2 separate regions of the Homo sapiens genome follow, and region 1 is linked to region 2. Evidence: fine-mapped expression QTL. Tissue or cell type: prefrontal cortex. Region 2 holds a variant in brackets; the other region holds the start of a gene. All regions are shown on one strand. Distances are from middle to middle. Region 1 holds the start of MRPL43 (mitochondrial ribosomal protein L43). Region 2 has its middle 24 kb from the start of SLF2.

The links. PIP is the estimated chance that this variant, and not a neighbour inherited with it, causes the effect.
Region 1: it holds the start of MRPL43, and the variant in region 2 is the best candidate, but not a certain one, in a credible set for the expression of MRPL43 in prefrontal cortex (GTEx, PIP 0.68).

Annotation. Positions count from the first base shown.
Region 1 is chr10:100,986,168-100,989,073 of GRCh38, forward strand. It overlaps MRPL43 (mitochondrial ribosomal protein L43), which reads right to left and starts at 1,330. Exons shown (of 3, transcript NM_032112.3): 1 at 1,146-1,330; 2 at 923-1,029; 3 at 102-808. The coding sequence starts at 1,276. The coding sequence ends at 567. It overlaps TWNK (twinkle mtDNA helicase), which reads left to right and starts at 1,376. Exons shown (of 5, transcript NM_021830.5): 1 at 1,376-2,906. The coding sequence starts at 2,044. RefSeq lists an enhancer at 1,089-1,158.
Region 2 is chr10:100,887,743-100,890,648 of GRCh38, forward strand. No RefSeq gene overlaps it. Among named protein-coding and RNA genes, the nearest start is that of SLF2, 24 kb to the right of the region's middle. RefSeq lists an enhancer at 2,246-2,906. The variant A/G (reference allele first, on the strand shown) is at 1,266.

The DNA.
Region 1 (2,906 bases), 98 kb after region 2:
ATACTAACCACCTGACAGTTGTTATATGTTCTGCGTCTAGTTTTAAAATAATGAAAACTGAGGCTTGTGCTTAACATATGCACACATTTTGAAGACAGACCTGAAATGTGACCTTGGATAAGTTTATTAACCTGTTTTATAAATCTGTATTCACACAGATATAAAGTGCCTAGCCCATCACAGCAGAGCTCTCCGTAGCTCAGTGGTTGTTCCAATAAGACATCAGGGATTCTTCAGAAGCCAGCCTTCAGACCTCTCACTGTGTTTTGAGATCATTATTATCAATTTGGATTTAAAAAACAAGGGCCCTGTAAAACCCTTGAAGTCTTCCTCATCTCAGGTTTTAGGGATGCCACTTGCATAAAAATGAGTGGTTCACAAGGTCACTGCCCCCAGAAGCAGGCACTGGAAAGAAACAGGCAGCTCTTCATTATCCCAAGCAGAACCTCTGTCAACTTGCCCATTGATGGGTTCCATTTGCCTGGGCTTGGAATCCCAAAGGGGAAGAACCACCTTTACCGGAGTAACAGTCCAAAGCCTGGGGCTGCAGTTGGTGGGGCAACTCTTCACTGTGCTTGCACCTGGGCTGGGGCAGGATCCTGAACCTCTCGGGGGCGTAGCCCGCGGAACGTGGTCGGCTTGTTGGTGAAGGGGTGCCACTGGCCCTGGATGCTAGGGTTGTCGGTGTGGAAGGGCTTGCGGATGCGGATCACGTCCAAGCCCGACTGGTCGGCCAGCTTCTGCACCAGCGTCGAGATCTCCTCGACCGACTTGCAGTGGATGCTCTCCTCGCGCACAGCCCCGTTAACTGGCAGAAGAGGGGTGAGAGTGGGTGGAAGCTGGCCGGTGCGACCAAGCGAGAAGGAGGATAGCGGGTCGAGCCCCTGATCCCGCCCTCCAGCCCGAGCCCGGCCCCACTCACGGTATTCGGCCACTACTCTGGGCACGCAGCACGGACGCGAGTTTACATATATTACGACCCCTGGATTCCGTCGGGCGAAGTCGATCACCTCCCGCTCCACGAACTCCCTAAGCGACCCGGGACAGTGAGCAGTATGACCCCTGACTGGGGGCGACCTACCCGGGGAGTCGTTGCCACCTCCACACCCACCCCGACCCGCGCCTGCGCACTTCCCTTGGCTCACCTGGCGCCGCGAGACGAGGCGCCGTCGCGGCTGACGCTGAAGCTCAGACGCTGCAGCTGCTGCACATAGCGACCCAGTCCGTTGTGGAGAACGCTGGCCAAGAAGCGGCTCGGAGTCCCGCGCGCCGTCATAGCTACAGCTTGGAGGCCGCGGAGCCTAAGCAGCGAGGAGAGGGGGGCGGGACTAAACCTCGAGGCTTCCGGTTCCGGGACGACCGCTCCCGGAGTTTTGCTTCCGAGGTCAAGGCGAGTAGCATGTGCGGGAGACTCACGTTGCCGGCGAAGTGGGAGAGAGAAAAGTGGTAACCTGGGGCTGGGGGCCGGCGCGGCGGAGCTCGGAGTAGTAGAGCGGAGTGAAGACACGGGGGAGGATAGAGACTGGCATTCCTTTGGGCCGGGGGATTGGCGGGAGTCGTGCTGGGTGCTCTCGCCGTGTTGAGGTCCCAGTGAGGGGAAGGAGAAGCGGAAGAGGGTCTCTAGTCGGGGCCTAGGGCAAAGGGACTACAAAAAGGATGCAGATGACTATAGAAATGAGGACGACGAGGAGATGCTGTGGAGGAGCAGTAGAGGTGAGAAGATGATGCAAAGAAACTGTGTCAGTGAGGAACTGTATAGAGGGTCATAGAGGTGAGGTGGCGGAGAGAAACTAACTAACGGACCATAGAGGTGGGGGAGCCATTGTAGAAGGACGTGGACGCGAAAGGGTCGTGTAGATGGGCATATGTGTGAAGCAGCAACGTAGAGGGGCTGAAGAGGAGAAATTCATGGAGAGAAAGAATGCACCTAGAGTGAGCTCTGCAGAGTGCTGCGTGGGATATCCCTAGAGTTTGGTCTAGTGAAGGCACGCTAACCAGGCACCTAAGGCATTTCAAGTAGTGACTTCCCACATTTGGCTAGGAATGTGGGTCCTCCTCCGAAGTGGGTACCCCCTCCGTATCTTGTTACCCCTGCGTGGGGAGTGGATGGGTCGGAGGGGCCTGCCCCGAAACTTGGCCCCAGGCCCTCCTCGCAGACGTTACAGGAAGGAGACTCTCCAAGCCTTGGATATGCCAGTGTTGCCTGTAACTGCAACTGAAATCCGCCAGTATTTGCGGGGGCATGGGATCCCCTTCCAGGATGGTCACAGTTGCCTGCGGGCACTGAGCCCCTTTGCAGAGTCTTCACAGCTCAAAGGCCAGACTGGTGTTACCACTTCCTTCAGCCTCTTCATTGACAAGACCACAGGCCACTTTCTCTGCATGACCAGCCTAGCAGAAGGGAGCTGGGAAGACTTCCAGGCCAGCGTGGAGGGGCGAGGGGATGGGGCCAGGGAGGGGTTTCTGCTTAGCAAGGCACCAGAATTTGAGGACAGCGAGGAGGTCCGGAGGATCTGGAACCGAGCAATACCTCTCTGGGAGCTGCCTGATCAGGAGGAGGTTCAGCTGGCTGATACAATGTTTGGCCTTACCAAGGTTACAGATGACACACTCAAGCGTTTCAGTGTGCGATATCTGCGACCTGCTCGCAGTCTTGTCTTCCCTTGGTTCTCCCCTGGGGGCTCAGGATTACGAGGCCTGAAGCTCCTAGAGGCTAAATGCCAGGGGGATGGAGTGAGCTACGAGGAAACCACTATTCCCCGACCCAGCGCCTACCACAATCTGTTTGGATTACCACTGATTAGTCGTCGAGATGCTGAGGTGGTACTGACGAGTCGTGAGCTTGACAGCCTGGCCTTGAACCAGTCCACGGGGCTGCCTACCCTTACTCTACCCCGAGGAACGAC
Region 2 (2,906 bases):
CTTATATACCATAGAGAAAGGGTGCACACACTCCAGCAGGACAATGCAAGGCAACCCTCCGGAAGAGGCAAGAATGCTACATGCGTCATAGCCTATAATTTGTGCGATAACATCAGGGTTGCTTTGTTCTTACACTAGAGACAAACAAGGTAGGAATCAGGAGGCACTCAGGACTGGGGCTACTCATAAGTTAACATGGCGGGTTAGCATCCGCGATGGAGTCGCTCTTGTCTCCACAGCGGTTAACACCATTGCCATGTCTCATTGAGTTCTCGGCTTTCAGAACAATGCCACCCAGGCTCCTGTCTGAATCTGGCTCCCAAATCTAGGCTGTGCTATGTCTGCTCTGCCCCCTAGTTGGGGCTCCTGACCTGGCCCCTGAACGAGGAATGCACTCCTCTGCCGACCTTCTTATGCCGGTTCCGGGGTGCCCCTTCCAGAGAGCTCAGTGACTCTGCTCCACCCACAAACATGCGACCTTCTCCCCAAGGCTGCTTCTACCTTTCCTTAAAGCTAAAATTGGCCAGGCATGGTGATTCACACTTGTAATCCCAGCACTTTGGAAGGCTAAGGTGGGAGAATTGTTTGAGGCCAGGGGTTCAAGACCAACCTGGACAACATAGTGAGAGCCTATGTCTACAAAGAAAATTTTTTAGAAAGCTAGCTGGGCGTGGTGGTACCCACCTACAGTCCTAGTTACTTGGGAGGCTGAGGCAGGAGGATAGCTTGAGCCCAGAAGTTTGAAGTCATAGTGAACACCACTGTACTCTAGCCTGGGTGACAGAGTGAGACCTTGTCTCTTTAAAAAACAACAACAAAAAAAGCTAAGATCTTGGTCTCTTGGTAGCTTTAGGTGCTGGGACTCTTGGGTTGATGTCTGTCTGGCAGGATGGTGGTGAAGCTATTACTCCAGAAGCCTTTCCTTCTGAGCTCCCAGCCCTAGCAATCCCTCTTAGGTCCCCTGTTCCCCACCATTTAGATGCCAGCCCACATGACCTTCCTATATTCCACTGCTACACTGGAGCTAACAAGCACAAATACGTATCAACTATCACCAAGAATTGAGAAACTGTTCTCTCAGAGCACCTCCAGAAGAAGTGAGCTAAATGCTAGATGATGCCTCCAATTCCCATCTCTAGATGTAGGTTCAACAGAGTTCCACTTCCACATGTTCCATCATTTATTGGAAATTTCCATCAGGCTCATTCATCAGCGCCTTAGCATCCATTACCCAACTTGCCCCCAAGCTAACGTGTCAGCCTACT[A/G]TTGCCAGGTAGCTGGAATCCATTGGTCCAACCATGGGCTTTGGGGTTCAAATTCTGGTCCTGTCATCTATTAGCTGGAAGACCTGAGTTAAGTCGTTTAACTGGAACTGCTTTTTCTGTGACATTGGAAGGAGTGTTTTGTAGCTCCCTCTCATGGTTGATAGGAGGAACTAATAAAATTGCATCTGTAAACCATCTAGCATTTTGCCTGACATATAGTAAGAATGTTAAAATTAATATAGATATACAGATATACTCCCTTTCCTATGCAAACTGGTGCTCTATACCAGCTCTCCAATATCCTTCGGTGACACCATCATTTCTAGAAAAGTAGATTATCTTGGATCCATGTGACAGACTTCATTCACATCATAAATTAATAAATTCACTTTCTGGTTTTAGGCATTAGTCTCTCAAGCCTGATCAATATGCTTTTGCCACTAGGACAAGGATCTGTTTCTGGTTGGGCAGAAAATGAGTTTTCTGCACCCAAAAGGCTGAGGGTCAGAGAAAATTATCCCAGTCTATGGCTGTTCCCGGAGAAAACTCCCAGGAGACAGCATGCTCATCACCCCCACAACTGGTCACCTCTATATCAGATACCCCTGGATTTGCCATCTCTCTTTCCATTTGGAACTGTTCTACGCTGGGCTCAGAGTTTCACATCTAGTAGGTGTTTAGGACCTATTTGTTTTGTCAGTGTGTGAGTGGGTGGGTGGATGGTTGAGTGGGTCACCGGAAATTCGTACCTCTTTTTGAGGCAGGGAAGGAGCAGTGGTGGCCTAGCAACCAGGGAATCTGCCTAGCAACGAGGGTGGGAGGCAGAGGCTGCTGGAATAGTTTAGAATGGCTAACAAATAGGCAGATGTAAAAGAGACCTTTCTGGATCTTGTCAAGTTGGGGTCTCAGGCCAAAAGGAGAAAGGAGACCCACAGGGATCAGGAAAGAAGTGTGGGAGGAAGGGCTGTATTTGAAAATGTTACAAACTCAAACTGGAAAAAGCCTCACGCCTTTTCTACATGTGCTCAAGCAGAAGGCACCCCTCCCCATTCTCACCCCGAGGAAGGTGATACCTCAGAGTAGACACATTTGAAGAGCATACCACCTTTTCTGCACTCCAATTTGCAAGGGTACAACATTTTAACATGTTCTATCAAGTCTGGAATTTTTATCAACTCAGAAAGCTACAACCCCCTGGAAAGGATGAAGACCTATATTCGCTTAAAATGAACCCAGAGGCAGATTAAGCGACTTTCCAATACGGTCTGTCTAGGGCAAAGGAACCATTAGGAACTCGGGACTGGTCTGACTTGAATTGTTTCCCTCTCTCCTTCCTTTCCACCCCGTCACAGGACAGGGCTTGGACATCCCCTCCTGTGAACTCTCAAGACCCTCCCCTGAAGAGAGGAAAAATTGTCATCAGCCTTTGACCTGATTAATAATTAAAACTGCTGAGTTTGAACTGCCCCTAACAGTGAGGTGCTCCAAAACCCCAGCAAACTTTAACAAATAACCAGCTTGCTCAGGGGAGAGAGGAAGCTTTATTCACTAGACAAACTGACAATTAGCTGCTATTCAAATCCCCCTCTAGTCCTAGCATATTGGTTCTCCTTTGAAAGTGGCTCGGCATGGGGTAGAATT